3 linked regions of the Homo sapiens genome follow. The protein of the gene in region 2 interacts with the protein of the main gene of each other region in a pairwise test. Each region holds a gene or a part of one and is shown on either strand. Other genes may lie near its edges.

Evidence for each region.
Region 1: the proteins of SGK1 (region 2) and CETN3 interact in binary tests that used the Homo sapiens proteins (3 or more experiments, as listed by UniProt).
Region 3: the proteins of SGK1 (region 2) and TMEM184C interact in a two-hybrid assay, tested with the Homo sapiens proteins (one large-scale study listed by BioGRID and IntAct).

The regions. Positions count from the first base shown.
Region 1 is NC_000005.10:90,399,740-90,403,394, forward strand, and holds part of CETN3 (centrin-3), read right to left. Parts: intron 1-3,655. UniProt on the Homo sapiens protein: Plays a fundamental role in microtubule-organizing center structure and function. As a component of the TREX-2 complex, involved in the export of mRNAs to the cytoplasm through the nuclear pores.
Region 2 is NC_000006.12:134,308,056-134,311,710, forward strand, and holds part of SGK1 (serine/threonine-protein kinase Sgk1), read right to left. Parts: intron 1-3,655. UniProt on the Homo sapiens protein: Serine/threonine-protein kinase which is involved in the regulation of a wide variety of ion channels, membrane transporters, cellular enzymes, transcription factors, neuronal excitability, cell growth, proliferation, survival, migration and apoptosis.
Region 3 is NC_000004.12:147,620,291-147,623,945, reverse strand, and holds part of TMEM184C (transmembrane protein 184C), read right to left. Parts: intron 113-3,655; coding exon 1-112. UniProt on the Homo sapiens protein: Possible tumor suppressor which may play a role in cell growth.

The sequences.
Region 1 (3,655 bases), on a different chromosome or scaffold from region 2:
AATGTTAACCTTTTTTATCATGAGCAACTTGTCTTATTATAAAAGTAAGCAAAACTATATCACACAGAGGCAAAATAAAAAGGACTACATTTATACCATATTTATTTAAGATCTACTATTATCAAGAATTGTACTAGGCTCCACTGACATCAAGCACACAAGGAGTGTGTCATCTACCTGTGGAGAGACATACCAACAAAATAATTGGAGCTAACTAAATAAAAGCTGCTTGCTGACTAAACGTCATACTAACACTGATTCTTCCTCAAATTTAATCCAACTTCAAAACAAGAAAAACTGCAAGAGACAAAAAGTACTGCCATCGCAGACACAGGCACAATCTCAGACAGCATTTGAAAATTCCACTAATACCTTTGTGATTAGAAGAACCTCTTGGTTTTCCAAAATTTACAAAGTAGTAAATAGGATCAAATCTGACTATAGCAGGAAAGCCCACCCAAAAAAAACCTCTGCAAAGAAGGTCTCCTTAAAGCTTACCCATTTTGTTTGGATAAATCACTCTCAGACAACTAACTAAAAATAAATGTAGTTTCAAACCTCAATGGTAATTGTGTATTTTAATACACTAAATATAATCACATGTAATAACATAGTAATAAGCTTAAGTATTTTCAATTTTACCAGTCTTTAATCAATAGCCACAATAAAAATTAAAATAAAAATCTATGGCATAAAAATTGGTAAGTTACTAAATAAAATTCTAACAGTATCTAAATAAGTATCTCTGAAGTAATTATATACACTATCTGCCACTACAAGAAAAGGTATTTATGGCCTTTACTATGCTATTAAAAATAACTCGGTCCTGTTGAAGGTTACAGAATCATTAAAAAAAAAAAAAAAAGCAACTGCTTATAGATGGAAAATACTGGAATGTTTAAGGAACCCAGAATGAAAAAAATACAATCGAAGTCTCCAACAAGCTGTTGTTTTGCTGCTGTTTCACCCGTATTTGGTTCAATAATCACCTATTCAAATGACTATTATATCATCTACACATATTTTCAATAGTTTCCTTTTATCCATTAATTTTATCCAAAAAGGCTTCCAAGTAACTAATTGAAGTATATTACTGTAAGTATGCAAATCATCAAAGCTCATAAATATTCAGTCAAAAAGAAGCTGGCATATCTACAGCCATAACACCAAAATAAAATACCACACTTAACTCTATGGCACATACTCAACTTATTTTGAATTTAGTCCCAACAAAAAAGCAGGACAAGGAAAAAAAGTGTTAAGAAATTTTCTTCACCAATTAAATAATTTACATGACAGGTGAACCAAAAAAGCAGCTTGCTGAAAGTATTAATGTACTTAAAGAAGCAACAGGGTGATTGGGGAACAGATGGGGCTCCAAGATGTATAAATTCTTATCCCACTGGTACTTTAATTGTGTTAGTTATTTCAGAGCTATGTGTCTATATATTCTTTTATCAATATTCTTCCTTAAAATGCAGCTTTTCTTGGGAATTATAAATGCTCATCATTTTGGACAGCAAAAACATTACCTAATATATAACTTTATAATGACTCTCCTCCATGCCTTCAGGTTCTATTCTTGTTCCACAAAGTAGAATTTAATTATAAGGAATATATTTATTTTCAATGAAAATATTAGTAAACTGATATAGAGGCAGTTAAGGTGGGTTTCATTTATTTCACAAAACTCCAAATTTCTGTCCATGCAACTGTATTTTCAAATGATTTAATTACACATACTATCAGAAATGTACTTCATCAAAATACTTTCTTAGACCTTTAATGTGTAAAAATCACTTAAGAATACGGCAAATCCAAAAACATCACATCAAAAGTAAATTAAAAATTATTATAGGTAATGCTAGAAATACAGCTTTAACTGTATTTCTCAATGTCTTTCGGAAATTTCTATCCAAACATACCAGTTAGACATGTTGGACTCCAAACTCATTCCACTACCACCATAGTAACTGCAGCTGCCTCCCCTACCCCAACCAAAAGATAACAGCAACATTTACAGCTAGATTCCATATTTGAAAAGCATAAATCATTTTCAGTCCCACAAACTTAATCAGGTCCTATAGTACTGAGAATACTGTTTTTTTTCTAATTTATTTATTGTTTTAAAACAAGGTCTCGCTCTGTTGCCCAGGCTGGAGTGCAATGGCGTGATCCCAGCTTACTGCAGCCTCAACTCCTGGGCTCAAGCAATCTTCCCACCTCAACCTCCAAAGTAGCTGGGACTACAGGCATGTGCCATCATGTCTGGCTAATTTTTTAAAATTTTTTTGTAGAGACAGGATCTCACTTTGTTGCCCCAGCTGGTCTCAAACTCCTGTGAGCGAGCAATCCTCCCGCCTTGACCTCCCAAAGTGCTGGGATTACAGGCATGAGCCACCAAGCCCAGCCTCTTTTTTATTCTTAAATGTATTTTCTTTTCACCCTCGCCATCCTCAGCGAAAAAAATAGTATTTTCTGTCTGCAGTCTCTCTTCCTTCCAACTCATCATCAATAATACTCTCATCAGTTTTCTTTCTCAAACATATCATATCCCCTTCCCTTAAAAATTGTGAATGATCTCTGCTGACTAGAATTCAAAATCTTCATGTTTTGCAAGACTTTACCAATCTGGCCCAATCCTATGTTTCCAGTCATTTCCCTATGTCTAGCCCAGAACACTACCTAGTTTCCCAAACATGCTATCCGTCTAGTACCATTCTTTGTTGTTGCTGCTTTCTAAGCCTAGAATGCTTTTTCTCTACTCTTCCTGGCAATCTTGGAATGAAATCTTACTCACATTTCCAAAGGCCTAAATTTAAAATCTCCTCTGCAAAGACTTCAATTCCTCTAGATCAGGGATTAACAAATCTTTCCTGTAAAAGGCCAATAGTAAATATTTTAGGCTTTGTAGAGGGCCATAAAGTCTCTAACTACTCACTCTGCCATAGTAGCACAAAAGCTGCATAAAAGAAGGGGTGTGGTGGTGTACAAGCAGCAGCTGAATTTGGTCCAAAGGCTATAGTTGCTGACTTCTGTCCTAGACAAAATTACAATTTACCACATAGTACTATAGCCTGTTGTCACCTATATTTACATTGTAAACTCCCTGAAAGAAGAACCTTTTAGTAACTTTTAATTAAGTCTTCTTCCCAACCCCAGTACAGTACCTAATACCAAAAAATTCAGTGTTAAATAAGCAAAATGAAGACAATAATACAGTATTACAATCTCAATCAGCAATAATAAGTAGTACATGTCAAAAATAGTGTACAAACGTTTGACTTATGTTAGTCTTAAAGACACTAATTCCTAAAATATCTATGTTACTCACTAGCCTCAGGCTGTCTTGACTCTAAACTTAAATTAAATATATTTTAAAGCTTTTTTCCAGTACTAGGAAGAGTCTATAATAGTTAACTGCCAAACTTCATCCAGATATATCTGTGGAACAGTGTCCTTGGGTAGTTCATAAAACTAGGACTCAAATGTTATGATTTAGAATCATCTGTCCCAAAGTATAAAACATATTAATCTGTGGTCAGTGATTAGTTAAAAATAATCAACAAAAGGGGTAATACATAGTTCCTGAATGATTCCCAAACAGTAATACATTTTTATTTGACACCTGGTACTCTCCATAGGTAGCCTTAAG
Region 2 (3,655 bases):
TCTTTATTTTTATACTACCCCTCCACAGCCTTACCCCAATCTTTTAAACCACACCGGAAGCTATGTACTCATCGTTTTTTTCCTGTAATTTTTTTTACAGTACAACCTAAATAAATACTGGCCCAGAAAGATTCAGAGTTCAAAGAAAATTCAGCTGCTTTCGGAAAGATCATTCTATGGGAAAGATCACATTTCTGAGTAATAAACATTATAAATACATATTCCGATTTATTTTTAATTCTCAAACTATTAACTTTCATTTTTCCCCTCTGGCATATTTTAATTTTTGTCCTACAGGGACTTGAGTCTAAATATGTTTTAACAATTTGGGGGACTTTTCTTTTTTCACCTTGCTATTTCTAGAGACTAAAATCTTTGAGCTACCAAGGTCTTTCAAACTGGCTGATGTCACTCTAACAAACTCAGAGATAGCAAGATGTTCCTTAAGCCACTGGGTTAGAACGAGAATCCTTTGTTTTCTATGGGCACAATCCTAGGAATGTTTCTTCTCTTTTTTTTGAGACAGAGTCTCTCTCTGTCACCCAGCCTGGCGTGAAGTGGTGCCCTCTCAGCTCACTGCAACCTCCACCCCCCGGGTTCAAGTGATCCTCCTGCCTCAGCCTCCTGAGTAGCTGGGATTACAGGTGCACGCCACCACACCCTGCTAATTTTTGTATTTTTAGTAGAGACAAGATTTCACCGTGTTGGCCAGGCTGGTCTCAAACTCCTGACCTCAGGTGATCCACCCGCCTCAGCCTTCCAAAGTGCTAGGATTACAGGCGTTTGCTACCGTGCCCGGCAAGCCTAGGAATATTTCACTTCATGCTTTTCTCTTTTGCCTTGCTGTGAGCTTATCCTCCAGAGACAACAGAGAGAGAGAAAGAGAGAGAGACAGGAGAGAGAAAGTGGAAGAACCACATGACCAGTCATTTCCCGAAGCAAATGGCGTTTTGGGTGAATGCCCTGACCTAGGAGGGAAAAAGAGGCCAAGGTTACCCTAATGTTACAGAAGTAGCTAAGTGAATTCTTCTCCGAAAAACGTCACAGCAGGCTCTAGAAAGCAATTAGAGTAATATTTTGGCACCTCGAACTACCAAATAGAAGATTCCTCTACTGCTCTAGTTACATCTTTGATTTTCATTTCCCTTTGTTGTAAATACTTACAATGTCATTTCAGAATGCTGCAGAGAAATAGATGTGAGAGTAAACAAACTATAATAATAATCCTTTCTCCACATGCCATGGCAGCTGCAGGAGGAGGCCAACGCAGCACCGAACTTGCCTTACTGTCTGCTTTTCCTGTCCTCCTCCTCCTGCACCTCCTTCACCTCCTCCACCTCCTTCTCCTCCACTTTCCCACATGGTCTTTTATAAATTTGCCAGCATCACTGTGCAGTTTGCCAGAGAAACCTGGCCACTTGCTGGGTAAGCCTGCTCTTAGACCAAGGACCAGGGTAGGTCACTGCTGCTGTCCTCATTTCTGGGCCAGAAGGATTCACTGAGAGTGAGGTCCAGAACCACCTGCTTTCCCATTACAGAGGATGTGGATCTCTATAGAGACACTGCGTATCCCTTCAGTTAAAGCTCTTCGAAGACTCTTTTTACCCTGCGAGCTGAACTTTCTTGAGCCCCATAGAATGGATAAAAATCTTCATCCCCAGGTTGGTGAGGAGCCAATGATTTCACGCTCAAACAAGCTGACAAGCTAGGAATCCTAGCTTTCCTTAGCAGGCAGGAAACAGCATCCCACTCATAAGTCAGGAGTCTTTTCTGCCAATGTTAGGAATGTTGATATTTACCTTTATTTTTGGACTTATTTCTAAAAAAAATTAACTAGTATGTAAAAAAAAATCACACTTTAAAAATATGCTTCTACAATATTTGCTCTAGCGAACTATCTTTAGCTTGACCTAAATTACTAATTAAACTTTTCTATTGATCCAATTCCCATTACTGTTCCTGCCTTTATGCTTTCATATTCGGAAATCTCCAACATGCATTTTGATGGCTCCACCCCCCACGTTCCTCACTCCTGCCCCCTCATTTTGGTTTTGCTTTACCTTGTTAAGCACTTACAGATCATAAAATATGGGTGAGCTCAGAATATCTCTTACTCCAGTGTTACATATGGCACCCGCATTTCAGCACCAGCCCTTTAAAAAATGGTGCAGAATTTCAAGGAACTCAGCTACACTTTCCATTCAAAATCCCTCCCAAGCACTGTAGCTAAGAGCCTATCTCAGGATTTTCTTGAGAGCTGCTGGGGAGGCAAAATATCTATCTAACGAAAATGGCTCATCATCCACATTCTGCAGTACTGAGACTAATTCCCCAGCACTGCCAAACCTAGACTGCTGAACTCCCTCATCCAAACTCTCTAAGACTTAGTGGTCAAAGTGCCAAAGGCATCCGTCTTACTCACACTCTGTGGCTCCTAAGACCATGCTGAAAAGTGAGGATAAGTAATAATTGAAAGACATTTTTAGGATTCTAGTTGGGAGGATACATAATGCAGATACTATATAGTTTTTGTTTGTTTGTTTGTTTTTTGAGATGCTGTCTCACTGTGTTATCCAGCCTGGAGTACAATGGCGTGATCTTGGCTCACTGCCACCTCCGCCTCCCAGGTTCAAGTGACTCTCCTGCCTAGGCCTCCTGAGAAGCTGGGATTACAGGTGCCCACCACCACTCCCAGCTAATTTTTGTATTTTTAGTAGAGACGGGATTTCACCATGTTGGCCAGGCTGGCCTCAAACTCCTGACCTCAGGTGATCTGCCTGCCTTGGCCTCCCAAAATGCTGGGATTAAAGGTGTGAGCCACTGTGCCCAGCCTACTATATATTACTGAAGTTAGTAATTCATATTAATGCAAAATAAAAGGAGATTAGTGAATCACTGCTACGTCTGTCTTGTTTGGCCTGACAAGAAAAGTATCATAGAAGAGAAGGTGTGTTATGGGCATTGGATCAGCAAATAAGCTGAGGTCAAGCTTCCCTAAGTACCCACCAGCTCTGAAGGGGAAGTGACAGCTTGTCTTTGAGCCAGATTTAGGTTACATTTCAGTCTTAATTTATATCTAATCCATATCTAAACATAGAGAGAAATAAAATGCATTAGATTTCTGAGCCACCAAAGCCTGTTTAAAGGAAGACGGAGGAGGAAGGAGAAGAGGGCAATGACTTAGGGGCAAGTAATAGAAGGATTTGTTCTTTTATTTTATGCATTCTTTTATTCAACAAATATGTTTTGACAAGTAGGGGATACAGTGAACAAGGTAACTGGTTTTCTGTCCTTAAAGACCTTCCAGCCAGTTGTGGTGGCTCATGCTTGTAATCCCAGCACTTTGGGAGGCCAAGGCTTGTGGATCACCTGAGGTCAGGAGTTGGAAACCAGCCTGGCCAACATGGTGAAACCCTGTCTCTACTAAAAAAAAAAATACAAAAAAATTAGCTGTGCATGGTGGTGCACACCTGTAATCCCTGCTACTCAGGAGGCTGAGGCAGGAGAATTGCTTGAACCTAGGAGCCAGAGGTTGCAGTGAGATGAGATGGTGCCACTGCACTCCAGCCTGGGTGACAGAGTGAGACTGTATGAAAAAACAACAAAACAAAAAACCTTCCTGCCCTGTGGGAGCTACAGAGGAATAAGCAGTACT
Region 3 (3,655 bases), on a different chromosome or scaffold from region 2:
GTTCAGGTTGTGTATAATGCACTAAGTGTTGCAATATCACCCACAGTGATATAGGAATAGTCAACAGCAAAAAGATTCCAGCAATAAACCAAGCCTTGGTGTGTATTCCAACCTTAAGAAACAAAATAACATGTTAATATAAATTCTGATATTAAAACAAAAGAGCTTGGCCAGGCTCAGTGCCTTGTGCCTATAATCCTAGCACTTGGGGAGGCCGAGGTGGGAGGATCGCTTGAGGCCAGGAGTTTGAAACCAGCCTGGGCCTACAAAGTGAGAACCCGTCACTACAAAAAAAAAAAATTAAAAAATTGAAAAAAATTTGTGGGGGAGGGGGGACTTTTATATTAACTTGTAATCTTGCCTTGAAGAGTATGAATCTTTTTTTTTTTTTAAGGGGAAAAGGTGGGCATTTATTTTTGATGCTTGAAGGGTTGAGCAGTTTACAATTAAAATAGAACTAAGGTCTACAACCTTAAGTATCACTGTTTCTTTTCTTTTTCTTTTTTTTTTTTTGAGACAGTTTTGCTCTGTTGCCCAGGCTGGAGTACAGCGGCGCGATCTTGGCTCACTGCAACCTCTGCCTCCGGGGTTCAAGCGATTCTCCTGCCTCAGCCTCCCAAATAGCTGGGATTACACACCCAGCTAATTTTTTTGTATTTTTAGTAGAGATGGGGTTTCGCCCTGTTGGCCAGCCTGGTCTGGAACTCCTGACTTCAAGTGATCCGTCCGCCTCCGCCTCCTGAAGTGCTGGGATTACAGGCATGAGCCACCGTGCACGGCCCAGTTTCACTGTTTGAACAGGACTTTTTCTTCCTCTACCAGGGGCCAAAGATAAAAGAGGTAGAAAACAAAAGTATGGAGAACAAATGCATTTTTACAACAACAAATTTCCACATTAAAATGTATAGAAAGCTTGAAAAGGGCTGAGTGAGGTGGCTCATGATTGCTTGAGCCCAGGGGTTCCATCCAGCCCAGCCTGAGCAACATGGCGAGATGCCATCTCTACAAAAAATAAATTAGCGAGGCGTGGAAGCATGTGCCTGTAGTCCTACCTACTAGGAAGACTGAGGTGGGAGATCTGCTTGAGCCCAGGAGTTCAAGGCTACAGTGAGCCATGATTTGTGCCACCGTACTCCACCCTGGGCAACAGAGTGAGACCCTGTCTCAAAAACAAAAACAAACCAAAAGCTAATACAAAGTCTTACTGATTGTGGGGGCGTTAATCAAACAGTAAATGAAAAGCAAATATATGGACGTAAGACTCTAAAAGGAATGTCTGAGCACTCATATTACAGGGCTTTTTGCTTTTATCCATTTCATTTAAAATTGAGTACAGTAGTCCCCACTTATATGTGGGGATTAGGTTCCAAGACCCCCAGTGAATACCTAAAACTATAGATAGTCCCAAATCCTATATGCATATACTATGTTTTTTCCTATACATATATACTTATGATAAAGTTTAATTCATAAATTGGACACACAGTAAGTGGTTAACAAGAAAATAGAACAATTATATATTGTAATAAGTTATTTAAAACTTACAAATTACTTATTTCTGAAATTTTTCATTTAATATTTTCAGACCATGGTGGACAACAGGTTACTGAAACCAAGGGAAGTGAAATTTCAGTGATGATCTAAGAAAATAATAATAGGATAAGCATATTCTAGATCTCCTTTATTATAAAGGATGGTACTGCGGCCAGGCGCGGTGGCTCATGCCTGTAATCCCAACACTTTGTGAGGCTGAGGAGGGCAGATGGTTTGAGTCCAATAGTGTGAGACCAGTGTGGGCAACATGGCAAAACTCCATCTCTACAAAAAATACAAAAAATTAGCCGGGTGCCAGAGGATCACTTGAGCCCAGAAGGTCAAAGCTGCAGTGAGCCATGACCGCGCCACTGCACTCCAGCCTGGGTGACAGAGCGAGACCCTGGCTCAAAAAAAAAAAAAGAAAGAAAAAAAGAAAAAAAAGTATTGCCAAGTAATTGCTTATTTTGATTGCTTTAGTTCCAAAAACTAGAACTTGGTGGTACACTTAAGAGAAAAATGATGTGCTTGTGACTAATGAAGGTCAAGTGTCCTCAGTGTGCTATAAAGAAGAAAGTTGTTTTTGTTTTTTAAACAATCATAAAACAAGTGACTAGAGACTTGGTCACTGCAGGCCAAATTTTAAAATCCTGTACCACATAATATCATTTTTACAGTGCAAGTGGTAATTTAGTTTCAGAAAAACATCATCTCTCCACATTAATGTCATTAATTTTAATTATTGGTTTTACAGTTGTTTTGATTTTTGAGCTATATAAAAGTTACATGCACAAGAAATTTAACCTATTTTATGTGTGTATATATTTAAGTAACATTGTAATAGAATAACTCAACACTAGCTATCTGCAGAAATTATCAATATAATTTTTTAATTTTATGTTTACCTCTAAATAATTTATTCAAATTTGAGACACATTGATGTAGATACCAGTAATATTATTCTTAATCTTTATCAGCCATGAGTTGAGTTTTTGGGCTCACGAAATGAGGAGGAGATAAACAGATTTTTTTTCATGGGTAACTTTAGGAAAGAAGAGAGGAAAGAAAAAACCCTTAAAGACAAGCATCCAAGAATAAGTTAACTCTCCCTCAGCAAAATGCTTCAAAACAGAGAGTGGAGATGAATAGGAGAGAGTGCTTTCTGGGCCAGGTCTTCCTGAGGGGAGAGAGTAGAACTGACCTAAGGGCATGAGGTAAATGTGCTGAGGTTAAAAAAAAAAGTGTGCTGAGGTAAAAAGACTAGAGCAGCATGCACATTCACTTCAGGTATACATGGTCAGCCAAGTGAGTGGGAAAAATAGTTTAAACAGTGCAGATGGTCACCCTACCATTCCAATAAATGGGTATATGCCCCACCATGGGCATGGGATGAGCTTCCAGAACTGTGAGAAAATAAATTTCTGTAGTTTAAGCCACTCAGGCTATGGTATTTTCTCACGGCAGCCTGGGGACACCAAGATAAACTCTCACATTTGTATCTGCAGCTCATATCTTTCTGAGCATTAGATGTGCATATCCAACAGCATATCTGACATGCCTATTGAATGTCTCTTATTAAACTAAATGTCCATAACAGAACTCAATTTCTCTCAAACCTGTTCCTAACCCTCAATTTTCTATCTCAGTAACTAGCACCACCATTTACACAGTTGTTCAAACAAAAAACTTCAGAATCATCTTTGATTTGTTCCTTTCTCTCACTGCTTCTCCTCTGGAATCCAATCTTCCTGCTACGTCTTGTTTGCTCACTTCTAAGGATACTTACAATTCAGTTTTCCATTTCCACTCCTGCTATCCTTACCGGGGCCATAAACCATCATAGCCCAGGCACCCAACACCTCTCACTACCATAAAGAGCTTTCTAACTTCCCTTCACTTCTGCTTTATTTTCCATAGCTGGTAGAGTGGTCTTTTGAAGTTATGCAATTAGACTGCCCTGCATGGTAACTTCTCAGATCTTTTCTGGTTTCCTCCACAGCATTTTATACAATTTTATTGATTTGTTTTTGTTGGTCCCTTTTGTCTCCACCAAGTTCTATGGAGGTAATGTTCTCTCATATAGTATACAAAGCCTGATTCATCACTGGGACTCAGTCATTTG